7 linked regions of the Homo sapiens genome follow. The protein of the gene in region 3 interacts with the protein of the main gene of each other region in a biochemical or structural test. Each region holds a gene or a part of one and is shown on either strand. Other genes may lie near its edges. The genes, in order: MAP3K20, FGF7, POLI, TM6SF1, ATCAY, TMEM43 and PEX11B.

Evidence for each region.
Region 1: the proteins of POLI (region 3) and MAP3K20 form a complex in vitro, tested with the Homo sapiens proteins (one large-scale study listed by BioGRID).
Region 2: the proteins of POLI (region 3) and FGF7 form a complex in vitro, tested with the Homo sapiens proteins (one large-scale study listed by BioGRID).
Region 4: the proteins of POLI (region 3) and TM6SF1 form a complex in vitro, tested with the Homo sapiens proteins (one large-scale study listed by BioGRID).
Region 5: the proteins of POLI (region 3) and ATCAY form a complex in vitro, tested with the Homo sapiens proteins (one large-scale study listed by BioGRID).
Region 6: the proteins of POLI (region 3) and TMEM43 form a complex in vitro, tested with the Homo sapiens proteins (one large-scale study listed by BioGRID).
Region 7: the proteins of POLI (region 3) and PEX11B form a complex in vitro, tested with the Homo sapiens proteins (one large-scale study listed by BioGRID).

Annotation. Positions count from the first base shown.
Region 1 is NC_000002.12:173,264,085-173,268,044, reverse strand, and holds the end of MAP3K20 (mitogen-activated protein kinase kinase kinase 20), read right to left. Parts: intron 1,996-3,960; coding exon 1,295-1,995; 3' UTR 30-1,294; downstream 1-29. UniProt on the Homo sapiens protein: Stress-activated component of a protein kinase signal transduction cascade that promotes programmed cell death in response to various stress, such as ribosomal stress, osmotic shock and ionizing radiation.
Region 2 is NC_000015.10:49,482,242-49,485,741, reverse strand, and holds part of FGF7 (fibroblast growth factor 7 precursor), read right to left. Parts: intron 2,592-3,500; coding exon 2,488-2,591; intron 1,433-2,487; coding exon 1,238-1,432; 3' UTR 1-1,237. UniProt on the Homo sapiens protein: Plays an important role in the regulation of embryonic development, cell proliferation and cell differentiation. Required for normal branching morphogenesis. Growth factor active on keratinocytes.
Region 3 is NC_000018.10:54,286,226-54,290,185, reverse strand, and holds part of POLI (DNA polymerase iota isoform a (long)), read right to left. Parts: intron 2,906-3,960; coding exon 2,775-2,905; intron 1-2,774. UniProt on the Homo sapiens protein: Error-prone DNA polymerase specifically involved in DNA repair. Plays an important role in translesion synthesis, where the normal high-fidelity DNA polymerases cannot proceed and DNA synthesis stalls. Favors Hoogsteen base-pairing in the active site.
Region 4 is NC_000015.10:83,121,145-83,124,644, reverse strand, and holds part of TM6SF1 (transmembrane 6 superfamily member 1), read right to left. Parts: intron 2,725-3,500; coding exon 2,642-2,724; intron 1,889-2,641; coding exon 1,767-1,888; exon of another isoform or gene 1,255-1,766; intron 1-1,254. UniProt on the Homo sapiens protein: May function as sterol isomerase.
Region 5 is NC_000019.10:3,879,139-3,883,796, reverse strand, and holds the start of ATCAY (caytaxin), read right to left. Parts: upstream 3,113-4,658; 5' UTR 2,789-3,112; intron 1-2,788.
Region 6 is NC_000003.12:14,138,298-14,142,257, reverse strand, and holds part of TMEM43 (transmembrane protein 43), read right to left. Parts: intron 3,079-3,960; coding exon 2,961-3,078; intron 666-2,960; coding exon 463-665; 3' UTR 1-462. UniProt on the Homo sapiens protein: May have an important role in maintaining nuclear envelope structure by organizing protein complexes at the inner nuclear membrane. Required for retaining emerin at the inner nuclear membrane.
Region 7 is NC_000001.11:145,915,726-145,920,307, forward strand, and holds the start of PEX11B (peroxisomal membrane protein 11B), read right to left. Parts: upstream 2,993-4,582; 5' UTR 2,964-2,992; coding exon 2,908-2,963; intron 2,805-2,907; exon of another isoform or gene 2,721-2,804; coding exon of another isoform or gene 2,707-2,720; exon of another isoform or gene 2,230-2,706; intron 2,092-2,229; coding exon 1,976-2,091; intron 1,294-1,975; coding exon 1,092-1,293; intron 1-1,091. UniProt on the Homo sapiens protein: Involved in peroxisomal proliferation. May regulate peroxisome division by recruiting the dynamin-related GTPase DNM1L to the peroxisomal membrane. Promotes membrane protrusion and elongation on the peroxisomal surface.

The sequences.
Region 1 (3,960 bases), on a different chromosome or scaffold from region 3:
AACAGGGTTAGTGAATGCTGAACAGAATCTCAGAATATTGAAAGTAACATTTATTGATTTGACATACAATAAGTTTGTTGCTACCTGACTTTTTGGTTTGTAAAACATGAAGCATTTCACAAGTTGGATCCCACCATTTCTGCCCTAAGCTGCAGACAGTCTCCTTGCACCCCCACTGGTTTACCTCTTTGCCCACAGCTGCTCAGAGCTGTCTTGCTGCAAGGCTGATATTTACTGTCTTACTCCAACAAGGATGTTGGTAATTTTAAATTTCTCTGGCTTTTAGCTTGTGATGTTATTGTCTTGCTCTGTGTCTGTTTTCTTTTAGATTTTAGATTTCTGACATCCCAAGAGGCCTTTATGGAGTGTTGTTTTATCCTCTTTGCTCCTTTGGTGAAATTTAGAAAATAGTATTTGAAAGCAGTCGCTGGGAACTTAGGAAGAGAAAGAACCACAAATCTAGGCAATTTAAATCTTTGGTTTCTGATAAATCGTAATGAATGAGATATGCATCATATTCAACATTAAATTCAGTAACTTTTTTTATTACTGAAAAATGACAAGCCAGATCAGTTCAACTCTGACCATCATACAGACACAAATATCTTACTAAAATAAATACTAAATACTAACCAGCAGGGCTGAGCCAAGGATGAGATGAGTGAGGTACCTGCCTTGGGCACAAAATTTAAGGGGACATCCAAAAAAAAGAGGGGGAAAGAAAGAAAAGAAAAAAGAAGCAACAAAAAACCTCAAACCAAAAAACTCGATAATCAAGCTAAATGATATTTTAATGCAATATTTAAAAAAATAAATGCAAAAATTATGATGAACAAAATATCAAAATGTTAAAGACAAGATCAGTAACAGTGCCTTGCCAGGCCATATTGCAGCCTCAGCCAAAAGGAAAAATCAGTAACATTCATCTTATCTTTTCCTAAAAATTTGATTTTTTTGTTGACCTCATTTTCCTTCCCCTTGTCCTGGCCCTGCTAACCAGAATATCAGTGGTTAGGGTAAAAAGATGGCATAACCTTTCCTCTAAAAATGTTCACTCAAGGCAGAAAATATGTGTAGTGATTTTCAAGCCTAGTTATGATCACTGGGTGACCAATATCCATAATTTTGGCCCTGGTTTGGCTATAGTCTCAATTAGAAGGTATTTCCCAATCCAAAAACTGGAAGTGTTGTCTTTTCGTTAATTCAATCTGAAGGGATCATATTATCAAAAACCATTACATTTCTTTTTTTTTTTTTTTTTAACCTGCTTAGAAAAGCTATGTAGTTCAATTCATCAAAAGTTTCTCCATCCACGGTGGTCCCCTCTGGCTCTCTCTTTATTGGTTTTGGCGGGAGATGGCCTGTGGGGCTTTTTCCGGTATTCCACTTTTGTCCAGCCCCCTTCGCTGACTTTGCTGTCCTCTTCACTGGCTCTTGAGTCAGTCTCAGGGTGCAAAGGCATCCCTGGTATGGTGTTGGGTTGGTGGAGGTCCCTGGGGCTTCTCTTGAAGTCAGGCGACTGGTGAGGATTGAGTGCTGACTGAGAAACCCTGTAGAACTTTCCAGGGTATCTTCCTCTTGAAGGAGTGGAATGCTGACTCTTTCCACTGTATCTTCCTCTAGGAGAAGAATTGAGTGATATACTACCACGTCCATATTTGTTCCTGCTTCTGTCTGAGTATCGACCCCTCTCTGAAGAGGTGTCAGTATTGCCACTGGAAAAGCCACTGTCCCTAGAGTTGAGATGTAGGGAAGAGAAGTTTTTGGTCAGTCCATACTGAGTAGGAGACGAGCTTCTGGACTGGTTCACAGGTGTAATCTGTTGATACTTAATGGGCACCTGGGGCCGTCTCACAGCAGCAGCGTAGGAATCCTGGCCATCAAAGTGTGAGAAGAACGGTGACCCCAGAATAGGATTGCTCTGGGAACGCTGTAAAGAAGTGTTGGATGCAATCTGCCGCATCCTCAGAGTATCTAACCACTGGCAATCAGCACCTGCGGGAGAAATGGAAATGAGCATCTTTTAAGCCACACTAAAGCTGCATGTCTAATTCATACGCCTGTCTTAGGATAATTCAGGGCTGTTTGGGATGCTCTAAGCTTTACCATTCATAGAAATTCTAGGCTATGTATAAGGACGTTTCTTTTATTACAAATACTTTAAAAAATAAGGACATTTACACTTATTCAATATATGCTATGTGCTTGGCATTGTTCCATGGGCTTTACTTACACTATCTCATTTAATCCTCTCAGTAATCTTCTTAGGTAAACACTAATAGTTTTATTCTATAAATGAGGAAGCTTGAGAGGTCAAATGACTTGCCCAAGATCACTCAGTCAATAATACCAAGTCCTTCTGCATCTAAATCCCATCTTCTTCCTACATAGTTGTGTTGTTACTTCTAGAAAGTATGTTCAGGTGGCAGGGGCATGTTTAGTAAACAAAAGGTTTGTTTTGCCACCTGCATTTTTAAAACCTCAAGGACCCTAAATGCAGATAAGAGAAATGAGGTTCCGAAGGTTGAGACAGCTAGAGATTGTTTGGAAGAAAGACCGTTCACGTGTCCACAGGAGAGATCCTGAGGCTCGGGAATAAGAAGTATTTTCAGCATAAAAAAATGAAGCTGCATTGGCAGATAGGAAGAAGTTAAGATAAAAGAAAATGGTGAATTAACAAGAACCATTTAGTAAGCTATATTTCAGTGAATAAGCAAGTTCCTCACACCTGAGATCTTTTCTGTTTTCCCCCGAGCCTGAACAACGTTACCCATGTTCTAGAGTTCCTGGGTGGTCCTCCCAGCCTCAGCTTCCTCAGCTACTCCACCCCCTGCTCACGCAGATAGTGCGCGTGGAGAGTATCAGAGCATGCACATGTCTCTGTCTCCTCACTGCCTGGGCACAGGTGACCCCGAGCTCTGAAGTGAGTGACTTGTCCAGACAATTCCAGAGACTCCTCCCAGGCTTCAGTCCATCACAATGCCTTCTTCTGTTGTTGTTGTTGTGTGTATGTGTGTATTTTATTGTGGTAAAAACCACATTTTCCATCTTAGCCATTTTTAAGCCTCTAGTTCAGTAGTGTTAGTATATTCACATTGTTGCGCGGATCTCTGTAACTGTTTCATCTTGCAACACTGAAACTCTATACCCACTAATCTCTACCTTCCTCTTTCTCCATTTCCCCTCCCTTCTCCCCTGCCCCCTGACCGCCACTTGTTAACTGTCTTCTACTTCCTGTTTCTGTGACTTTGACTACTTTACATACGTCACATGAGCAGTAGCATACAGAATCACAATGCCTTCTTTCCTCGCCTTGACTTCTCTGGAATTTTGCCTTCCAATAGAACCCTGATTTTGCTCAGTCTCCATCCCCCTCCATGTAGCCACGTGATCGGGAGAGTTGACTGCATTCTGGCTCCAGGGATCGACTTTAATTAGTTTAAGTCAGATGTGCTCATGCTATGTTTAGGAACGGACAGGTTGCTCCATTCTGGCCAAAGCAGAATTGCTGACGGGTAGTCTGTTGGGGGTTTCTAGAAAAGTTTTCCTTACTCCTATATATAAGAACAGGTAGGGACCTAACCCGTTATTTCCTCTGGGCGTTGTGATATCTTTGTGTGATGACTGTAAACAGGAGAGGAGCCGAGGGCAAAGGCAGCCTATTGAGCATGGCAGGGCAGAAAGAAGGGAAGGTTCATTCCACTCTCTGAATATGGTTGAGCCAGCTTATCTTACTGCACCTGGAGCCTGCCCTACCTCTGGGCTTCTTGTTATGGAAGATAATAAATTTTATTACAGTTTAAATCAGTGGCTTAAGGACTTTAGAGTTGTTCTTAATCACTGGGAAGGCTCCTTAAAATGCAGACTGCAGCTCCTATCCCCAGAGTTCTGATTCAGTAAGTCTGGGTTTGGGCCTGAGCATCTGGATTTCTAGCAAGTTCACAGGTGATCCCGATGCTC
Region 2 (3,500 bases), on a different chromosome or scaffold from region 3:
TACTTATATGATCCAATTAATTGGCAAGAATATGTGGTGAAAGATTTTTTACATATTTGTATTGTTCTGTGTGAGACATCTATTGTAAGCATTGCTTCAGGCTCTTATTTTTGTCTGCCTTCCAGGATTTGCTGGCCCAAGTGCTGTGTGCTAGACTTAGTGTCAGTCAGAAAAGGGAGGGAAACTTGCCGTTGAGCCAGACAGTTTTGTTATTCCTTTAAAATTAAAAGCATATGAAACAGATACAGCTTATTAAGGTTTTTTTTTTATAAATAACATAAACTTAAATAACAAAACAATAAAGTTCAAAAACAACTTAAAATAGAGTTTAATGCTGTAACCATAGGAAAAAAGCATGATTATTTGTGGGAAGAACATTATTAAAAGCCATATTCCCAAATATGAATTATACAAAGATAGATTATGTTACTTGAAAAAAACTTAAAGATTTCTCAATTTTACTTTGAGGATTTATAAAATGTTATTTTGTGGCAAGTAAGATGAAGTACAGTATTATCATCAATCACTGTTGCTATCTTATATACAAGATTTTTGGAAACATCCTTTTAGCAATACCCTTTCCACTTGAGCAGCATTAGAAATTTTGTTCTTATTTATAGGTATAAGCATGTTCTAATCCTGTACTTTTGTTAAATTATCTATTTTATTGACTTTCATAATAGTTTTTTTGAGAATTTTTTTTCTGATTAGAGTTTAAGTAGATTATAATTTTTCACTAGAAAGCATTTAAAATGCTGCTCATTTTCCATAGTTAGTGTGGCTTGATTATCTGACAAATCCTGCCAGAAGCCTGTAGGTCTGATATACCTTATATAACAACATCTGTATTATTATTATTATAGCAGCCATTTTATAAGCAGATAGGAATATTTAAATAATCATTATCAGATAATCAAATCTAACATACTCTTAAGGGTAAATTAATTTAAGAAAAAAATTACTGTTACTAACATCATGATTGTACAACCAGTTTTACAATTTTTTACAACCTTTAGTTACTAAATCTGATTTTTGTGTATACTTTTCAAATCTTTCTTTAATGCAGTGTCTTAAAACAAACATAAATGCACAAGTCCAGCTTGATCAGTTTTTCAGTAGTTTTCCAGCCTTTCTTGATTACTAAAAAATAAAAGGAAAGAAAATTTTGAGAAGAAAGAAAACAGTCCACTTAAAGAAATCTCCCTGCTGGAACTGGTTCTTTATATACCATATGCAATTAAGTTATTGCCATAGGAAGAAAGTGGGCTGTTTTTTGTTCTTTCTTCGTTTTTTTTCCTCTTACAGGAATCCCCTTTTGATTTAAGGCAACAAACATTTCCCCTCCGTTGTGTGTCCATTTAGCTGATGCATATGTGTTGTAATGGTTTTCCAGAATTAGTTCTTTGAAGTTACAATCTTCATTGCATTCTTTCTGTTAAAACAAACAAACAAACAGACATTATCCAAATGATTTTTAGAGAGGCTCAATTAAACGAAGAGTAAGCAGGTAATATTTGGTAGAATTGAAACATACACAACTTTTTTTAACCCTCAGATTGAGCAGGCCTAATGTGGTTTATTAGCTATACTTATGTAGTATATTTGCATAAAAAGGTATCTTAAATTTGAAATAAAAACACCACATAATACACAGCTAGTTATGAAATATGTGTAGCTTTTTGGAAGTTCATGTCAACTATTCTTTAAATTAGGACCTATTTCCCCCTAAGTAACAGGCCTCATATTACTTATTCCCACATCACTCATTCTTTAACCACTGGAAATTTGGTATAATTAGCAGAACCTCTGCCTCCCTCAGGTGAGAGACTTGTTTCACAACTTTATTTACTTCTACATTGTCTTCAATGGTAATGGAAGATAAAAGGTTAATTTGTTTGTTCATCCATGCAACCATTTGTTCATTCAATTAAACCTGTATCATTATGCCTAGCTGTGGGAATACAAAGGAAAGCCAATTATATTTTATTATGGTGGGATGAACTGTTACATATTTTGCATTGTAGTGAAGTGGGGACAATGTGAATAATTACATTTCAATGCCCATGATTGTGAGATTGATGTTGATGAATGAACTAAACATTTCAAGATTTTTTCCCAAGAATTTTCATGTCAGCAATGTGCAAATTGGGTGAACTTTAACAAAAAGAGCTTTAATACTGGCAAATGGAAATTTTGGATTTTAAATATCTAAAATGCACATGGAATTTTAGAGCTGGAAGGATCCTTAGAGGTCAGTTAATTCAACTCATTTTACAGATGAAGAAACCAAAATCCAAAGAACAAGCCATTTGTCCAAAGTCACACAGAAAACATTTTTTCTTAACGTTTGAGTATAAAGTGTTTTAATAAAATCATTAAATTATACAGTTGGAGATAAATTAATTCCATTTTTACTTTTCAGAAAGGTGAGATATTTTGACAAAAATGAGTTTTAAAAATTAAGCCTAAGCTATCAATTATCAATACCTTTGCATAGAGTTTTCCTTCCTTGTTCATTGCAAGATAGAATTCACTTTCCACCCCTTTGATTGCCACAATTCCAACTGCCACTGTCCTGATTTCCATGATATCTGCAAGGAATCACAGAAAGACATGTCAAATATTCGTTCAGTTTTGCAAATGATCCACGAATGGCCATTTGTTCTTATTTCTGTTTTAATCGGAAGTTTTTAAAATTTTTAATGTGATTATTTACTCAGCCCAAGACCCCTGACCCACAACAGATACACACAAACACCAAGATAGTCATTATATAAGGGAAGTGCAAACCGATGGTTTTTTATTTTGTAGAAAATGTGTCTGTATCAAATAAATAGTTACATATTTGAGTTCAGCTTTTTATTCTCTAGAATTAAATTTCTAATTTACTATAATAATAATAGCTAATGTTTATTGAACTCATACCACATGCCAAGGATTATTGCATTGCTCTTATGTATTAACTCATTTACTCATAACCACAGATTGAGACAGGTAGTCTTGTTATCCCAGTTTTACAGATCAGGAAACTGAAGCACAGAGAAACTAAGAAATTTGCCCAAATTCTTATACCTGATAAGTAGCAGAACTGGAATTTGAACCCAGACATTCTGGCTCTTAATCATTATATAATTACTTTTCTATTTGGATAAACTTTATCTTAAAAATTATTGCCAACAGAATAGCTCTTGAATATACTGAAAGTGAAGAAAATTCTAATTAAAGCAAGTGTAAATGATGGTAAACAGAGCCTACTGCCTTAAAAAAAAGATTGTTTTAAACTGATAGTATTTTGATACATTAAAAGACCATTTAAAACAAAATTATGAATCCTGTTTATATAATACTTCATAACTTTATACCTTTGTAATTAACTTTTAAATCTTTGTTGAAATAGTATTTACAAAATGTGTTTACACAAGAATGGTAACTTACTATTTTCCTTTATTATATATATCTTCCTTAAATCCTGTGTTTTAATGACACACTAAATAAAGTAA
Region 3 (3,960 bases):
AAGTGTCTGTTCATATCCTTTGCCCACTTTTTGATGGGGTTGTTTGCTTTTTTCTTGTAAATTTGTTTAACTTCTTTGTAGATTCTGGATATTAGCCCTTTGTCAGATGGGTAGATTGCAAAAATTTTCTCCCATTCTGTAGGTTGCCTGTTCACTCTGCTGATAGTTTCTTTTGCTGTGCAGAAGCTCTTTAGTTTAATTAGGTCCCATCTGTCAATTTTGGCTTTTGTTGCCATTGCTTTTGGTGTTTTAGTCATGAGGTCTTTGCCCATGCTTATGTACTAAATGCTATTGCCTAGGTTTTCTTCTAGGGTTTTTATGATTTCAGTTCTAACATTTAAGTCTTTAATCCATCTTGAGTTAACTTTTGTATAAGGTGTAAGGAAGGGATCCAGTTTCAACTTTCTACATATGGCTAGCCAGTTTTCCTAGCACCATTTATTATATAGGGAATCCTTTCCCCATTGCTTGTTTCTGTCAGGTCTGTCAAAGATCAGATGGTTGTAGATGTGTGGTGTTATTTCTGAGGCCTCTGTTCTGTTCCATTGTTCTGTATCTCTGTTTTTCTGCCAGTACCATGCTGTTTTGGTTACTGTAGCCTTGTAGTATAGTTTGAAGTCAGGTAGCATGATGCCTCCAGCTTTGTTCTTTTTATTTAGGATTGTCTTGGCTATAGGGGCTCATTTTTGGTTCCATATGCAATTTAAAGTATTTTTTTCCAATTCTGTGAAGAAAGTTAGTGGTAGCTTGATGGGGATGGCATTGAACCTATAAATTACTTTGGGCAGTATGGGAAAATGGCCTAAATTTTTTAAGCCCTCTCCAACCCATACACTTATCCACTGGCAGAGGTAGACGGCTTCCAGACTCTAGTGTTTGAGCAAAACCTTTGCCAATCACTGGCTAACCATGAAACTATACAGACATGGGCAACTTCCCAGAAGCCAGTATTAAAATAAAAATTTGAATGGAAAAAAAAAAAAAAAACACTTGAGCAGAGAAATCAGTGGCTACACAGCACAGGGGAGGTAAATTCTGCAGATTACGTTCAGACAAGTTACCTAAAAAGAAGTACAGGAAACAAAAAAGAAAAAACCCTACAAGAAAAAATTGTAAATCCAGAGTTGCTACAATACATTATCTATGAGGTTCAGTTTTCAATAAAATAGTTCAAAACATGCAAAGAAACAGGAAAGTGTGATACATATTTGGGAGGAAAAGCAGTTAACATAAATTGACTTTGAGGTGAACTTAGCAAAGACTTCAAATTCATTATTATAGATATGTCCAAAGAATTAAAGACAACCATGTTTAAAGAATTAAAGTAAAATATAATGACTACAAAAAAAGGAGAATCTTGATAAAGAAACAAAACCAAACATATAAACAAAAGACAAACAGAAATTCTAGAGTTAAAAAGTACAGTAACCAAAACCAACAAATCACTACAGGGGCAACAGCGGTTATGAGATGACAGATGAATCAGAGAACTTACAGGCAGCTCAATACAAATTATCCACTTTGTAAGAAAAAACGGAAAAAAAAAAAGACTACAGAAAAATAAACAGAGCAGCAGAGACCACCACAGGGTGGAATCAGTGTTAAGGATAAACATATAGACCAATGAAACAAGAAAGTCAGGAAATAAACTCTTATATTTATGGTCAATTAATTTTTGACAAAGATGTCATGGTAATTCAGTGGGTGGAGAATAGTCTTCAACAAATGATGCAGGAACAACTGGATACCCACATGCAAAGCAAAGAATGAAGACCCTTACCGTATACCACACATAAAAAAATTAACTCAAAATGGACCTAAACATAAAGCTTAAAAACTATAAAACTTCTAACAGAAAACAGAAAAAAATATCTGTGACCTTTGAGTTAGGCAAAGAATTTTTACATATAACACCAAAAACACTATCCATAAAAGAAAAACCACACTACTATATACCGCTAGAACAACTATAATCAAAGAGACTGATAATACAAATATTGGCGAAAATATGAAAAACTGGAACCTTCAAATATTGTTGATGAAAATGTAAATTAATACACAAACTTTGGAAAAAAGTTGGCAGCTTCTTAAACAGTTCATGTTACCATATGATCCAGCAATTCCACTCTTTGAAATCTACCCAAGATAAATGAAAACATATGCATATGCCCATCCAATGACTTGCATTTAAATGTTCTTCAAAATGGAAACAATCTAAATGCCCATAAAGAAGTTATCTCATGCTATACAGTTATCACAGTTTTGTTCTCTTTGAACTTGGAAAACATTCTTAAATGACTCTTTACTTAATTATCTATTTAAAAACAAGGCCAGGTGCAGTAGCTCATGCCCATAATCCCAGCACTTTCGGAGGCTGAGGCAGAAGGATTGCTTGAGCTCAGGAGTTTGAGACCCTGTCTATCCTAAATATCAAAAAAGTTAGCCAGGTCTGGTAGCATGCACCTACTGTCCCAGCTACTCGGGAGGCTGGGGCAGAAGAATTGTTTGAGCCTGGGAGACAAAGGCTGCAGTGAGCTATCACAGCACCACTGCACTTCAGCCTTGGTGCAGAGCAAGACCCTGTCTCAAAAAATAAATAAATAAATAAACAAACAACAAAGTTTTCCAGTGAAAATTCCTGATAGAATAAAAGCATTTAATTGCTTGCTAATTCCCTGTGAAGACCCTCCATTTTTGGAGCATATTTCTCATTCAAAGTTGGCTTATTTAAGAGTTCAACCTGCTAATGAAACTGTTGGAAAACTAGTCCATACCTGTCCCTAATTTCTGAATTACATGTGAAGGAATAGGGCACTGACGACTCTCACGACCATAGTGCTTCTCAGAGGAATACCGACGGATTATTAATCTCACTGTATGAGGCTTCCTTCCATCTTGGCATACTCTAAAAATAAAGAGAAAGTGGAAATAAGGAATTAGAAAAGTATTACCTTTTTAAATTATGTAACATCTCATTTATCTAAAGGTGCCAGATTTTGTTAAATATGACAATTATACATATAGCAGATAACAAAATAGTAAGCAATAAAGGTCCCTGAGTATCCAAATAATCATCACAAAGTCTATGCACTAAAACTCTGAATGTTTAGATGTCAAGCTCTCAGGCCTCACTCAGAATTGAGTGCTGTCAGAAATAGAAGAGATATAAGATACAATCATAACAAACTGTTTTATAATACAGATCCAAAACAAAACTAAAAGCAACCAATTTTTTTTTTTTTGAGATGGAGTCTCACTCTGTTGCCCAGGCTGGAATGTGGTGGCACAATCTCAGCTCACTGCAACCTTCACCTCCCAGGTTCAAGCAATTCTCCTGCCTCAGCCTCCTGAGTAGCTGGGACTACAGGCATGTGTGACCACACCTGGCTAATTTTTGTATTTTTAGTAGAGAGGTGGTTTTGCCATGTTGGCCAGGCTGGTCTCGAACTCCTGACCTCAGGTGATCCCCCCACCTCAGCCTCCCAAAATGCTGGGATTACAGACGTAAGCCAACACACCTAACCAAAAGGCAACAAATTAAAATCAGCAGGAAATTTAAGAAACTGAATCATTCACTGACAAAAGCAAATAAGTGAAAAATAACAAAAGAACTTTTTTCAAACTTTTTTCTTACGAGATTACCAAAAAAAAGATTTTTTTTTACAAAATGACATTACTTTTGTTAAAGAGTAATCACTATTACCATTATATGATAGCTTATTAGAGCAATATCTTAAAAGAGCATATACTATATTTAGTATATAATTAATATACAATATGAGTACATGCATTTTTTAGAAGAGTTTCATGCAAATGTCTTGGTTTTGGTGTTGAAACAAAGGTTTTAGTGATATGACAAATTCACTTAAGTAGTACTGGAAAAAATGTCATTAAAGGATAACATTTCCCTTTTTATACACATGGCAATGCATATAAAACCAAATCTCAAACATAAAATGC
Region 4 (3,500 bases), on a different chromosome or scaffold from region 3:
AGGCCCAAAGTGCCAAAGAAGAATCTGAAATCTGAAACATTAAATGTCATGATGATGGATAAGAGAATTTTGAAGATGCACAATTTATATCATAAATCACTGGCCATGGAACTTTAGGAAAATCATTTCCTTCCTCAAGTCTCAATTTCCTTATCTGTGAAATGAAGAATTTGGGCTAAATGATCTCTCGAAGGGCTCTTGTAGCTCTATGAGTCCACTTTTTTTCTTGAAATGACATTTTAATGATAATAAATTTTAAAGGTAAACCATAAACCTGCCACACCACTATTAACCGTTGGTATACTTTTCCAGTAATACATGTAAATAGATATAGTTACATACACACAACATACATATATACACACACATATATCTACATTTTTCACAAAATTAGGAACAATTTTATATATAAAATTATTCCTGTATATAAACAATTCTGTATTTGTTCTTTTTGCTCTCAACATCTGCCTATATTATAAGCACTTTCCCACATGTTTAAAAATTTTCTCAAACTGAATACCATATGGAAACACCACACTTTAGCCATTCTCCCACTGTTGGATATTTAGGCATTTTTCACTGTTATACTTAATGTAATGATGAACAACTTTGTAAATCTTTGGTGGTATCTGTGTGATGATTTCCTGAAGATAGGGCTCTAGGAGCAGAATTATTGGGTTCCAGAATTATTAAGGTTGATAACATTGCCAAATTGCTTTGCAGAGCAATTCTGAATTTATGTTTCTGTCAGCACTGTATGACAATGCCTGCTTGGCCCTGGCTGTCACTGTGTTTTCACATTAAAAATAATGATAAGTAATTCTGCATGCCTCATGGCATACCTACTCTGTTGACACACTGACATGGAACCTTTAAAAGCAGTGGAGCTGGGACTAAGGGTGGACTGACTATTTGCTTTTTCTTTTTAACAGCCACCTCTTTCCTCAGAGGGAAGTTAGTACCAGCTGTCAGTGTGCCAGCCTGAGTTTACATAGAAGGTGTCTAAATGTTTACAAATGAAGTATTTGTCAATTAAAATGTATTTTAATGAATTATACTGAAAATCTTTTGTAAAATGAATAGTCGTATTCTGATTATCTCTAGTAATTCATATTTTCATATATCAGTTTTGCTTAAAAGATCTTGCTAAATGATCTAATACCTAGAAAAGTAAAAGAAACAGAGAGAAACTAGCTTAGAAATGAAGGCCTTAACAGAGTATCTGCCAGGCCAGTGCTGTTTCACCTTGACTACCTTGGCTGTGAATGGAAGGGAGGTGTCTCAGATGTCCTGTAGCCAGTCTCTATGGGCCTGGATCTCTGGAGTCAAGATTGTATGGCTGTGTAGACTACCTTGAGGAGCAGTATCCCTCCAGTGTCCTCTTGGGGTAGTAAATGCATAGGTGTCACAGAGGAACCCAGGTGTTCAACGTCCAGGCCATTAACAATCCTAGATGAACCACACACTATGGACTTCACTTGACACACTAATGCAGAATCTGATAGTTAGAGCCAGTGTGACCACTGGCACAGGAAGCTCCCCAAAGTATGGCCTTGCCAACAGAAGCAGATGTATTCAGACAGAAACAGACCTTCTTGCCTACATTAATTAATACGTAAGCTAATGCTACATAATCAAAACAGTCGCACTGTTTGGATGCCCCAAATGCTCCAGTCCACAGAGGCATGGTTCAATTCAGTGGCCAGTGGATGCGAAAGAACCCTATGAGTTTGAGAACAGGGTACATCAAAGCTTAATAAAATCACCTTTGAGGGGTAATTATAATTTTCTGATGGCTGATTATAGATTCTGAAACCAGCCCAGACAGGAAGACAAGTATATGGTATGCTTAAGAAAAAAGCAGGGCAAATTCGTGTTCCATACTTCCCTATTTAAAAGAGAGAAAGAGAAAGAAGTTACCAAAAGCATATCTAACACAAGTAATATTTAGGATACCTCCCCATCTCAGGTCATCTAAAATTTTGCTATGGGCCAGACAATATTTTTAATGAGGCCAAATTAAAAAGGTCAATTTAAAATACTAGATGTGTATTAACAGGCATGTCCTATCTACAGTAATCTGCTTGAGCCCAGGAGATCAAGGCTGCAGTGAGCTATGGCTGTACCACTGCAAGCCAGCCTGGGCAACAGAGTGAGATCCTGTCTCAAAAAATACATCTAGATAGGTATCTATATATGTTTGTATATATCTATCTCCCTATATCTATATCTATCTATCTATCTATCTACCTATATATCCTGATTTCCTGCATACATTAATAATGTACTTGTAATTTCCAAGTACATTTTTGGAGTTCTCATAGTGTGTCAGGAGTTAACATATTTGCACACTAAATATAGCCATAAACACCATACTCACTCCCTCAAGATCCTTCTAAAAAAACAGGAATCCCTGATAACTTGACTGCCAAATTGTTCAATGCACACATCTGAAAATTGCTCAAAGCACTTCTTAAAAAGTACTTTTTTTAAAGGTGAGAAAAAGGAATTATTCTGCAAAACAGGTTTTTAGTAAGCTTGGAATCACTTGGTTCTATTATAACTAAAAGAGCTTCTCTATTTAAAAACAAGCCCCATTGTTTTAGAAAAGGAAAGTGAACTTTAAGATAAAGTTTCTTACCTACAATGTTTCCTGGCACAAAAACAACAACACTCATAATAATAGATCCAACCCAATATAGGCCAATGGTTCTATAAGTTTCCCTGTAACAACAACAACAAAAAAATCTTGACTTGGTATGTTTGTCTTAGAATACTAAGCAAAAAATGATCTTCAATATTATTTTGTATTCAAACTAGTAAAGTACATCAATCAAAACATATTGAATTGAGAGGAATAAATCAAACACAAGGAGCCCTGGTTATGTAACTTCATTGCCATGTGATATACTATAGAACCTTCTTCGTGTCCTTTTAAATAGGAAATTACGCCTGCTATGTCTTCTGTTAAACTACAACATGATCATCCCTGCCACAGGACTCCTGCATTTCCCTATTGTGTGTGAAACTCAACAGCATGAAAGGAAAAAGAAAGTTGAAAGAAGAAATGAAATTGGATCCATATTTTTAATCATTATAAGTATGAGTTATACTTACAATGATAATGTTAAATGGACTTTTTCTGGGGTCACAGAATTTTGGCCAAAGCCCCAAAGGTGAAGACAAGTGACATGTACCCCATGTTGCAAAGGAGCTGCTAGACATATACCCCAAATCTTCAATGCTGACAAAAACTTCCTTCAGGCCGAGCATGGTGGCTCATGCCTGTAATCCCAGCACTTTGAGAAGCTGAGGTGGGCAGATCACTTGAGGTCAGGAGTTTGAAACCAGCCTGGCCAACATGGTGAAACGCCATCTCTACTAAAAGTACAAAAAAAAAAAAAAAATTAGCTGGGCATGGTGGCATGCACCTGTAATTCCAGCTACTTGGGAGGCTGAGGCAGGAGAAATGGTTGAACCTGGGAGGCAGAGGTTACAGC
Region 5 (4,658 bases), on a different chromosome or scaffold from region 3:
GATACCTTTTGGACATAACATACCAGCATCTTATGACTCAACCAACCCCATCTGTTTTGGGCTTTGAAACCAGTGCTTTGCACCTGTGGACAATTCTGCCTCCCCTGCTGCAAGGGGACACTTGGCATTGTCTAGAGGCACTTTTGTCACAACTGAGGGGAAGGAGTGCCCCCTGGGCAGGCCAGGGGTGCTGCTCAGCACCTTACAGTGCCCAGGATGGCCGCCCATGACCAAGAATGACTGGGTCCCAAATATCCATAGATCCAAGGTGGAGAAACCTTGTCTTAAAGGCAATAGTCATTTCTGTGTGCATTCCCGTGTTTGCGAAAGGATTTCAGGCCTGTGTCCGGCAGTCATTATAGAGTATTGTACACTCTGTCCTTCCATTACCTCTGTCTGTCTCTCAACAGCTTCCGAGTAGCTAGATCCACTTTTTTTGTTGTCATTTTTTTTTTGAGACAGAGTCTCGCTCTGTCGCCCAGGCTAGAGTGCAGTGGTGCGATCTCGGCTCACTGCAACCTCCACCTCTTGAGTAGCTTGGACTACAGGCGCGTGCCACCACGTCCAGCTAATTTTTGTATTTTTAGTAGAGATGGGGTTTCACTATATTGGCCAGGCTGGTCTCGAACTCCTGACCTCATGATCCACCTGCCTCCCAAAGTGCTGGGATTACAGGTGTGAGCCACCCTGCCGGGCCACTAGATCCACTTTTTAAAGCGTCTAGGGGCTGGGTGCAGTGGTGCATGCCTGGAATTCCAGCACTTTGGGCAGATCACTTGAGACCAGGGGTTCGAGACCAGCCTGGGCAACACAGCAAGACCCCATCTCTCAAAAAAAAAATACAAAAACTAACCAAGCACAATGGTGGGTGCCTGAGGTCTTAGCTATTCAGGAGGCTGAGGTGGGAGGATTGAGCCCAGAAGGTCAAGACCAGCCTGGGCAACATAGCAAGACACCATCTCTACGAAAAGCAAAAACAAAAACAAAAATTAATTAAATTTGGTGGGTGCCTGAAGTCACAGCTGTTCAGGAGGCTGAGGTGGGAGGATTGCCTGAGCCCAGGAGGTGGAGGCTGCAGTGAGGTATGATTGTGCCACCACATTCCAGCCTGAGCAACAGAGTGAGGTTCTATTTCAGAAAATAAAATAAAATAAAATAAGGCATCTGGCTGGTGCGGTGGCTCACACCTGTAATCCCCAGCACTTTGGGAGGCTGAGATAGGAGGATCGCTTGAGCCTGGAAGGTCAAGACCAGCCTGGGCAACATAGCAAGTCCCCATCTCTTAAAAAAAAAAAAATACAAAAATTAACCAAACATGGTGATGGGTGCCTGGTGCCTGAAGTCCCAGCTATTCAGGAGGCTGAAGTTGGAGGATCGCTTGAGACCAGGAGGTCGAGACTGCAGTGAGCTATGATCATGCCACTGCTTTCCAGCCTGAGCAACAGAGACCCTACTTCAAAAAATAAAATAAAAGATAAAGCATCTGGCTGGGGGCAGTGGCTCACACGTGTAATCCCAGCACTTTGCGAGGATCGCCTGAGCACAGGAGGTTAAGACCAGCCCGGGCAAGATAGCAAGACCCTGTCTCAAAAAAACCAAATACATGAAGCATCTAAGGCCCCCAACTCTCATGGCATCCAGGCTGCCTCTCTGTGGAGTAGGTTACCTGCAGCCCCCCAGCATAGATATCGGGTTTGCATCGGGGACAGGGGACTGTGGCTTAGCAAGGAAGGACCCAGAGGCAGCCTCAGCCAGATGAGGAAGTGGGGGGAGGGGACGGCTAAAACTAGACCCTCCCCCGTACAGGGTGAGCGTTTCTCACTCGATTCTCTGTCCTCAATGTCGTCATTCATGCTTGGAGGAGGGACAGTAACACGCAGCATGGAAAAAAAAAAAATCCCTCCTGGATGCTATGGGGTCGGGGGGGGGGCGGTGGCAGCAGCCAGCCAGGCCCTTCCCGCGAGGGTAAGTTCTCCTCGGCAGTAGAAACGCATTTGCTCTCCGGAGGAAGGGGTCTTCGCCTCTCCCTTCCTTATACTGAGCTGGGTGTGACCTCAGCCCCCAGGAACACTCCCACCAGCCCCGCCCCCGACCCCCACCCCCTGCCAGCTGCAGCCACAGGCGTTGACTCCACAGTCTTCTAAGGATGGGGTGGGGTGGGTCCTCAGTGGGCCCCGGACACTCCTGCACTCAGATCCTGGCTTCGCATTTGGGGACGGCCAAAAGAAGACAGTGACATCAAGGAACGGGAGTGAAGCGCTCATTTGAGCCCTGATGTCTGATTATTAACAAATCACATACGAGTTCCAATAAGGAGGAGGCATCTGTGTCTTAAACCATAAACCACCCCCTTCCTCCCCACCCCACAGGACAGCCTTTATCGACACACTTAGATTTTTTTTTTTTTTTTTTCCCGAAATCGTCGGCTGGTGGCCTTCCTAGCGTTATAAATAGGAAATACATAGGGCTAGGATGGGTCTATTTCAGCGTCCCAGAGAGAAGCTGAGGTTTTCATCCGCCCGAGCTCTCAGCGTGTCCTGAAAATGGTGCACTTAGAGGGGAACGGTGCGCGCGGAAGGTAAACTGTGTTGCTGGGCGCAGCTCAGGGAACGGTTTTCCCTGGTACCGGGAACAGGGATGTGAGGGCCTTCACGGAGTCACAAGACCGTGGCTCTCTGCTCCCACCCGCCCCATCTGCTGGAAAGGGATTTAGAGGCGGCAAAGGCTGCCGGATAAACCTTCCAGGGAGACGGTTTATCCTGGGAGAAGGGGAGATGCGCGCACTCACCTCTGCAGCTGAGACAGCCTCTCCTCCTTACTGGCAAACAAAGGCGAGCCCTGCCCGGGTGCAGCTGGGCATCGCTCACGCTCCCCGGGCCTTCAGAGCCTAGGAGGAAGAGGATGCTCGCAGGGGCGGATTCTGCATCCGAGGAAGGTCACCCAGGGCGACGTGGCCAGCGCCCGCCAGCTCTTTTGTGCAGGGGTGGGTGGGGTGCAGGGTTAGCGGTGGGCTCCCCAGCGCGGGGCTGCGGCTGCGCCCCCTCTCATCGCCGCCCGCCTGCGCGCCCTGCCTCCGAGGTAGCTGCTTCTTCCCAGCTCAGGGCTGGCAGAGGCTCGGCTTCCCGAAGACGGTTAATTTATGCTGCTTTTGTGTGCAGGGAGGAGGGGGTGGGGGGTGGCGGCCTGACGGAAAAGCACAGCCCCCTGCCAGAATCCGATCCTCCCCATTGGCTGACAGACAAGCATCTCCGAAAGCCACGCCAGGGGCAGAGGCAGAAATAATTTTCTGATGGCGCATCAGAGATTTAAAAACAAAACAACGGACAAATAAATAAATAAATGGCAAGATGGCCTCATTCCTTAGAGAATGGGGGGTGGGGGAGTTGGGAAAGGTCTTCTTGGCACTTCTCCTTGCAAAGGGAGCAGGGGTGAGGGGTGGCATCCCCCAAAAAGTCTGTGCAGGCAAAGAAATGACTGTCCCCAGGTCGGATGCCATGGCTCACGCCTGTAATCCCAGCACTTTCGGAGGCCGAGGAGGGAGGATCACCTGAAGTCAGGAGTTCGATACCAGCCTGGCCAACATGGTGAAACCCCGTTTCTACTGAAAATACAAAAATTAGCCAGGCGTGGTGGCGTGCGCCTGTAATCCCAGCTACTCGGGAGGCTGAGGCAGGAGAATCGCTTGAACCTGGGAGGCGGAGGTTGCAGTGAGCCGAGATGGCGCCACTGCACTGCAGCCTGGGCGGCAGAGGGAGACTCTGTCTCAAAGAAAAAAAAAAAAAAAGAAAGAAATGACTGTCCCCAGGTCACCGTGTTGTGGGTCCATTAGATGGTCACTTACCATTGATTCAGCCTCGTGCCCTAAACAGGGCTGGGTGCAGGGGAGGCGGAAGTTTCTCAGGCACACTCACTTTGCAGGGCTGCTGTGGGAACGGCGCCCCCTGCAGTTGTGCGCTGGCGTGGCCTCGCCCTGGAGGAATTCAAGGAGACTGTGGAAGATGGTAGGGTGGAGAGTGCAGGCCGTGCAGTCGGACTGGAAGTGGGTTTGAACTCTAGCCCAGCCACTCCCCAGCTGGCAGACCAGTGGGCATGAGTGATCTCACCTGCGGGCCTCAGTTTTTCTCATCTGTGAAATGGAGCCGCTATGGCTTTTCCACATTATGAGATAATGCATAGACAGCACTAAACACAGTGCTGGGGCACAAGAAAAGCTCCCTATGTGTTTCTTTCTCTTTCTTTCTTTCTTTCTTTCTTTCTTTCTTTCTTTCTTTCTTTCTTTCTTTCTTTCTTTTTTTTTTTTTTTTAGGTGGAGTCTCGCTCTGTTGCCAGGCTGGAGTACAGTGGTGCGATCTTGGCTCACTGCAACCTCCGACTCCCAGGTTCAAGTGGTTCTCCTCCCTCAGCCTCCCAAGTAGCTGGGATTACAGGCACACACCACCACACCTGGCTAATTTTTTTTTTGTATTTTTAGTAGAGGCGGGGTTTCAACATGTTGGCCAGGCTGGTCTCGAACTCCTGACTTCAGGTGATCCGCCCACCTTGGCCTCCCAAAGTGCTGGGATTAGAGGTGCGAATCACTGTGCTCGGCCTATATGTATTTCTTGCTATTGCTGTTTTTAATGTTTATTTTATTTACTTATTTTTTTAAGAAACAGGAG
Region 6 (3,960 bases), on a different chromosome or scaffold from region 3:
GACTAACGGCCGCCCTTCAGGATCACAGATGTGCTTGGTGGTGGTGGCAAAGCATGGCACTTGTGTGCAGTGATGAGAAGCAGCACACGGCAAGGCTGAGCCCTTTATCAGCAGGCCTCCGTAGAGCGTGTCTGCGTTGTCAGCTGCCAATGGGCTGAGTGGCTGGCCGTACCCACTCAGTCCAAGAGAGGAAGGAAACAGCAGGAGAAGCTGTCAGCTTGCCATTCATGAGCTGCTGCTGCCCACCAAAGCTGCTTACTGGCAAGAAGAGATGTGGGGAAGACATGAGCTGGTGAACACCAACCTGGTGCACATGCTGCCAAGTCTGGCCCCTGAAGAGGAGAGGGAGTGCAGAGTCCAAAATTGACCGGGGCTCCTGCTCTGGCATGGAGCTGGGTCAGAGGTGAGAGAGGACCTGGATCCTAGGGCTCACGCAGGTGTCGGGCGGGTGCCAGGGTCTTTTCACTCCAACTTTTTGGCTGGCACCCGTGTCCGAGCAACAAGGATGGGCACAAGGGCCAGGCCGGCAATGAGGAGGGCCCACAGGGGTCGGTAGAAGAGCCAGCCAGCCGCCACGGTCAGCAGGGTCAGCGAGGTGGCCACACAGAAGGCAAAGGCTTTCAGGCCAATGTTGACCAGGTCTCGGAAAACAGGAAACCAGTCCACTGTGGAAAGGAGAAAGGTGATGAGGTGCCACCTGCTCTACACCTCACCAGCTCAGCAGATCTCTCCTGTCCCTAGATGAGGATGGGCCCATGTTGCTACATGCATGAGGAGGGGAGAGGATCAGTGGGTGGAAGGCAAGGAGCTTCGTTCTGAAAGCTAAGGGAGCACAGGAGCCTCTGCTATGAGCTGCGTGGTTGGGCACATTGCCTAAGCCACCCACTCTACCCTGATCCAGGGGAGAGGATGTAGCAGTGCTTTGTAAACTTTAATACTTTATGTGGAGAGTAGTCTGAGGCCAGTATAAAGACATTTGCCTGTAATGCTAGAAATAACCTGGGTCCTGCACACTCATACAAGAGGCTGTGGGTGGAGCCTCCTGAAGGTGCCTATTTGGGCCTCTCAGCCATTCCTAGAGGTGTTGGTTCATTCATGCAGCAGGCTGTTACTAATGATTTATGTGCCCAGCACTGAACCAGCAGGTGCTAGAGGAAATAAATTAGCCTAAGCATTGGCCTCTCCTCAAGAATCTCACAGACTATTGGTCCAATAGGATAAAGCCCAGAATCCAGCTAAATTCATGAGGAATTACCCTATTCTTGCCTTGTGTGACCTCTCCAGGTTGGCATTCCATAGCTGATGTCCACTCAGGGAATCTTCGCTCAGTTCCCAGGAGGCCACCAATGGTCTGGAATCACTGGGTTTGCAGAGCAAGCCCTGGTGCCCCACCATGCCTGCAGCACACCCTGCAAGCCACTACCTGGCCTCATCCTGATCTGTTCCCATACAGCACTGCTACTCAGCCCTTATAATAAGCAAAGTTCATGTTTCTGAACGTTGCCTGTGTTAGGCACCATGTGCACCATCTCATGAAGCACTCATGCCCACCCTGTAAGGTAGGTACTCTTCTTAACTCCATTTTACCCACAGGGTCACTGAGACTCAGGGAATTAAGAAACTCACCACCAGTCCTCCTGTTAGAAAGTGCCAGAACCAGGATTTGAACTCAAGACCGTATGGGCCCAGAGCCTGGGCTCTGAGCTGTTGCTCTAAGTCTTGTCTGTCTCTAGCTGTGGAGTCTTACACACGTTGGTATTTATCAAACGCATGGGGAACTGTGTGCTTCCCTGCTGCGCTCCCAACTCTCCCCACCCACCCTGGGGGTCCCTCCACACTCTAAGTCTGTCCTGAGTCTGGCGCATTCCAGACGTAGAGTGAATTGGGATCACAGACATCAGAGATCCAAAGAAGGGCCCACTGAGACAGACACGAGGAAACCAAGGCTCCAGAAGGGAACTGGTCTCCCCAGGGTCACACAGGCAAGAAAGAGGATTCCGTTTAAATGCTCATCTCTCGCTAATGTGCCCACCACGTCACTGGTCTTTCTGAGCACAATTCAGCTGTCCAAAGAAAGGCTCAGGGAGAGTCCTTCCCTTCCCGGGCCTGTTTTCCCAACTGTAAACAAAGGAGGTGGTCCCCCCAGCTCAGACAGCCCAAGATGTGCAGCCAGACCTCTTCTGACTTGTGCATGCTGAGTGGGGAAGAGGTTTCTGTTGGCACCCAGAGAAGACTGATGCAATCATGTGACTGGAAGGGACACACACCAGGGAAAGGCTTGGATGGAGAGTCCTCCGAGGAACCCCATCCTCCTGGGCCCAGAACGCACTTAGTCACCCTGGGCACTCAGATCCCGAACCACGCTGGGCCACAGGTCTCCTACTGGGCTCACTGGTGCCAACCTCAGGTCAAGGAGTGGCCCAGAACTCTCCTTCATGCTCCAGACTTGCTGGCTGCCCAAATCTAGCCCAGGTTTTGGAGTGAGGAAGGAAGCATGAGAGTTTTGGGTGTTTCCTATTTGCCACATTTCATAAAACTCTGCATGTAAGGGGTGAGGTGACTGAAGCTGAGATGGGAAGGGAACGGCCAAGCATCCAGAGCTTGGACGTGACAGATTTCAAATGCAGGTCTGGCAGGCTCCCATGTGGTATTCAATTGTGGATCAAAGGAATGAGCAAATGATCGAGCCAGCAGATGGACGAACCTTCAGGCTGTGGAGTGAGACCAGTGCCCCAGAGTTGGCCCCACCCAGCCTGGCCCCTGGCAGCTCCTGCCCTCAAGCCTGCCTTCCTCTGCTCCCTCATCCCAAGGCTATGGAGCGGGGACACAGAGATGAGCCAAATGCCTGGTATCTGCACAAGGGCCATCCCATCAGGCTGGAAGGGCTGAGATGATGCGACAGGCAGAGGAGGCCCTTTCAGGGTGCAGGAGGGAGGGCAGTGACCCACCCCAACACCTACCCAAGGTGTAGAGGATCCGTGTCATAAGGTTGAGGCCCATGAACATGGCCATCCAGCCAGCTGCCCGCAGGCCCCAGGTCTTCATGGAGTTGCTCCTTAGTTCTCTATGAAACACCTCCTGCAGGACAAGGTGGGGGCAGGTCAGGATGCTGAGGGCCAGTGGCGTACCCAGTCGGCAGGGCAGGTCCTGAGGGGGCTGTACCAACTCGGGAGCTGTTGGCCATTTCTGAACAGGCCAGACGGAGTGGGGGCAAGCCTCCTATAGGGCTAAGTCCTTCTGCCCATCTGGCAGAGCACAGGGCAAGGCATGAGATCTCTGTGGAACGTACGGGCCTTCCTCAGCTCAGAGCCTGCCAGCACCTGGAGCCCTCAGCCCACGGTCTCACCTGGAATGAGCAGGACCCTGCCCACCACCCCTGAGCAGGTTGGAGGATGTCTGCTGGGCAGCATGCTCTGCGCTATGTGTGTGATCTGTTTAATCTCAGAACCTCTCCACATGGCTTGGGGACACTGCACCCTCCTTCTCAGGCTCCATCGCTGTCGCTGCCCCTCTTCCTGTCCATTAGATGCTGCAATTCTTTAGCTGCTTCAGTCCATACTCTCTCCCCGGACATCCCATCTGCTTCCTTGGCCTCCACATGCCGTGACCCTCCAATTTAAAGCTGCAGCTCTGGCCCTCTCCCGGGCCTCACAGCCCTGCAGCTCCCACCACCTCCACCACCTCCTTGACATTTCCACTTGACATCTCAGCCTGTCTAGTGCTGACACTGGCGCCTTCTCCATCTCAGCACATGGCACACCCACCCACCCACTCACATCTATGGGAAAGACATGGCTCGCTCCTCCCCTACCACCCCATCCAGTCCAGGCCACATATTCCCGAGTCTCTTACCACTGTCTGCCCGCAGGAGCCTCACTGGCCCTGCTTCTATCACCCACTCTGTGTTCTCCACACAGTCACCTGCCAGAGCCCTGCCACACCCCCCGGACACCGACCCTG
Region 7 (4,582 bases), on a different chromosome or scaffold from region 3:
CGGGTTCAAGCGAGTCTCCTGCCTCAGCCTCCCGAGTAGCTGGGATTACAGGTGCCCGCCACCACACCTGGCTAATTTTTGTAATTTTAGTAGAGACGGGGTTTTGCCACGTTGGCCAGGCTGGTCTTGAAGTCCTGACCTCGTGATCCCCCCAACCTCGGCCTCCCAAAGTGCTGGGATTACAGGCGTGAGCCACTGCGCCCGGCCTGCAATCCATTTTCAACATCTCAAAAAGAGATGTCCTTTAAACACAATTTGAATCATGTCATTTCCCTGCTCAGAATCCTTCAATAATGTCCCATTGTAGGATAAAATAAAACAAACATTAACATTGCCTAAAAGGCCCTGTATGAAAGATCTGGTGCCTGTCTATCTCTCAAATTTGAACTGATGGACTCAATACTGTCAATCACACTGGCTTTCTTTCTATTTCTCTAATTCCCTTAAGTCTTTCTTAGTTCAAAGCCTTACTTAGAATGTGCAATTTTCTCTGTTTGGAAATGTCTTTTCTGCTACTGTTGGCTTTGTCTAACTCCTCCTACTCAGACATCAGGTCTGAGCTAAAATATTACTTTCTCAAAGAGTTTTTTCCTGATTTTCCAATCTAAATTAGCTCCCCTTGTGATATTCTTTCATAATACCGCATACTTTTCCACAAATATATATGAGAAGTTATTCATTGTAGTATCTAACTCCCTCACTAAACTAGAAGCTTCATGGGAGCAGGCACATTATCTGTTTAGCTCTTTGCTTTATCCCCTGCGCCACAGTAAGCATCTAATAAATATCTTTGGAATGAATGAGTAAGCAGGTAGTGAGGGGGAATAACCTGTGGTATAGAAGCACAATTAAAGTGATATAATATCTTACCTTGCACAATATTAGTCATTCATTATGGAAGAGCATCTGTCTTCCATCTCTCCCCATTTGATATTCTCCGATAGTTTAAGATCTAAGTGATTGGAAGCCAAGTGACTGATCAAGACTTATATACTCTGGAAAGATCCTAAGATATCTTTCCCTCATATAAGACAAGCTATGCAATATAGAGGCTACAAAAAAAAATCTTAAAGGAGAACAGGATATCAAACCTGAATGAACGCTGGGCCCACTTCTCCTGATCCACACGGGGAGCCAGTCCAGACTTTCCAGCCCACAGGACATTGTCACAGGCGAAGTACAAGGCTCGATTGAGGTGACTAACAGTGATGCAGAATCTCAGGACAACATCTGATAGGTGAACAGCTCTTTTGGCTGACTCAAGGGCATCTGCTGAGTTACCCAGGCGTAGAACTTGTGGAGATTAGAAAGGGAAAGCAAGGATTTGTAAGTGGAGAGGCAGATAACAAGAAACAGAAACAGAGAAAGCAAGAGGGCAAAAGTTGAGCAATAATAATGACAATTTTTTTAAAGAGCAGAAACAGGCTGGGCATGGTGGCTCAAGCCTGTAATCCCAACATTTTGGGAGGCCGAGGTGGGTGGATCACCTGAGGTCACGAGTTTGAGACCAGCCTGGCCAACATGGTGTAACCCCATCTCTACTAAAAATACAAAAATTAGCCCGGCATGGTGGTGGGCACCTGTAGTCCCAGCTGCTCAGGAGGCTGAGACAGGAGAATTGCTTGAACCTGGGAGGCAGAGGTTGCAGTGAGCCAAGATTGCGCCACTGCACTCTGACCTGGACGAGAGACTCTGTCTCAAAAAAATAAAAAATAAAGAGCAGAAACAGTCCATTTTTCAATTTCAAATTTAATTTTTGTGCCAGTTTAGTTTTCTCAAACTTGACCCATTCTCTCCAGTCCGCCTAATTACTTCCATACCCCTGCTCTCTTATCTCAACTGGACTCATGCAGAGGGTAAGTGCAGAGCCAAATGAGAAAGAAGAACAGAGAGGGTACAGGAAGGAGGGACAAAGGAAGGTGAGCTGGGGATGGAGGAAAGGTTGGGGGATAAAAGGAAAGACAGAGTTACTTACGCTTTCTTCCAAGGCTCAGGTGGCTCTCCAGTTGTCGAATCTGTTTCTGTAACTCAGGACTGGCTCCATGCCTCTGCAGCGCATGGCCAAGAAGAGAGCAAGCATACTGGGCGGCCCTAGAGGAGAGGGCAGGCAAGGTAAGGTGGAGACCTCCCTAACCTTCCGCTCAAAACTATCTTCCAAAAGGCACAGACAGACTTCCCCCTTTCCCAGTTTGAGAACACTCCCCTTCCTCCTCCATGCCCATATCTCACCATTTCTCCAGGCCAGAGGAAGGGAAAGGCATAAGGAGAAAAAAGAGTCTAGAAAGGGGTGGGGAGCACTATTGAATGTTGAGCAAATTAGAGATTTGACAATGATGAGGCCTGAAGGGGCCAGTGCAGGCCGCAGGGGTCCATCACAAGCACATCAGCGTGAGCATGTACGTGATCGATGAGGGGGAGGCAGACAGTTGGAGGGCATTTTATTCCTCAGAATAGGTGAACTGAGAGATTTCAAGGCCCTCTAGCTGAATGGAGACCAAACGCCAGGGCGGAGGCAGGGGAGTTCCCGAATGGCAGCACGGTGTGGGGACACGGAAACTGGGAGTGCCTCCTCAGCTCTGGGGGCAGAGTCTGGGGCTATCCACCGTGGGGCGAATGCTCCTCATTCCATCACCGCCCAGTGAGGACACTGTCGGTCTTATGTGGACACAGCAACCCTGAGCGGCCTCCCCGCTGGCCCACTCATGCCTCAGTTTCCCCATCTCTTCCGCGAACGGAAAGGAATCATCTCAACAGCGGCTCAAATCTGCGCCTCACGGTCCGTTCGGGCCCCCGTAGCCGGAGTTGACCCTTCTTGACCCCCCTGTAGCCTAAACTGACTTCGCCTCACTAGAGTCTTCCTCTGTCCATCCCTCCCCCGCCCCACCCCCATTCCTATTCGGGCCGCACCTACACAGCCGCTCCCGGGCTTGGCTCTGAGCACTGAAGCGGACCCAGGCGTCCATGACAGCCGCAGCCCAGGCTCCGCGGCCCTGCTCCCGCCCCACTTCCCGCCCCTAGTCACGCCTACTGCGCGACCCAACGGTGCCTCGCGAGGGACAAACAGTATCAGAAAAGAAAGCTTGGCCCTGGAAGCGGAATTTCAGGACGCGAAACTCGTGTCTTTTGAGCCTCCATCTGTGTATTACTGTGCGTGTCTGCGTCACAGCTTCCCCTTATCAGACGACCCCTACTCCCTAGCACGCCTCCAGCGGCACCTTCTTCTTTAAATATTCATGACCAAGGGCGGGGCCTGCAGGGGCCGGGGCGGGGCGAGAAAGCGCCGCAGTGATCTCCACGTCTTGGAGGCCGCCGGCATAGGTGTGCGCCTGGCAGAACCTCACAAATACACATGCACGCAGGCCCCGACTGAATCCAGGGCTGTAGGGGCTAAAGAGGTCTAGGTCAGTAGAGGCCTGAAGCCCAGGCTGGTCTGTCCAAGGAAAAAGGAGCGTGATTGGTACCAGATCTTCGTTCCCTGCAGAACCTTGACAGTTGAACAAGTGACCTCCTCCAGAACAGATGGAGAGTCTCCAGAAGCAGAGGCTTTAGTGAACGAAATTCGCAATAATCAGCTCCAGATCCTGAAAAGGAGGGCGAAGAATCAGTGGCCAAAGCTAACCGCTTCATACCCACACTTCATCCTCCTCAGTTTCTCTCCAGGCCACCATGTCTGCAGGCAACGGCACCCCTTGGGGTCAGCAGCGGGGGAGGAGGTCTGGGCTGGATCAGGAGTGGAGGTGGAGGGCTCAGAGCTGCCCACCTTCTCGGCAGCAGCCAAGGTCCGAGTGGGAGTGACCATTGTGCTGTTTGTTTCTTCGGCTGGAGGGAACCTGGCAGTCCTGTGGTCAGTGACACGGCGGGAACCCAGCCAGCTCCGCCCCTCTCCGGTCAGGAGACTCTTCATCCATTTAGCAGCCGCCGACTTACTAGTCACTTTTGTGGTTATGCCCCTAGATGCCACCTGGAATATCACTGTTCAATGGCTGGCTGTGGACATCGCATGTCGGACACTGATGTTCCTGAAACTAATGGCCACGTATTCTGCAGCTTTCCTGCCTGTGGTCATTGGATTGGACCGCCAGGCAGCAGTACTCAACCCGCTTGGATCCCGTTCAGGTGTAAGGAAACTTCTGGGGGCAGCCTGGGGACTTAGTTTCCTGCTTGCCTTCCCCCAGGTGAGTGACCTAGGACTCAGGACCGGGCAGGACAGGGATTTGGGTCCATAGCATGAGTTAAAGGGTGCGCTTGGGGGCCATTAGCCATTAATTCTCAGGGAGTAAGCCTCTGCTTGCTTTTTTTTTTTTTTGCCGGCTCACTGCAACCTCCGCCTCCCGGGTTCAAGCAATTCTCCTCCCTCAGCCTCCCGAGAAGCTACAGGCGCCCGCTACCATGCCCGGCTAATTTTTGTATTTTTAGTAGAGGCGAGGTTTCACCATGTTGGCCAGGTGGTCTCCATCTCTTGACCTCATGATCCACCTGTCTCAGCCTCCCAAAGTGCTGAGATTACAGGCGTGAGCCACCGCACCCTGCTACCTCTGCTCTCTCTTCTGTAAGATTATTTGTATGTTAATTTACATCTGTT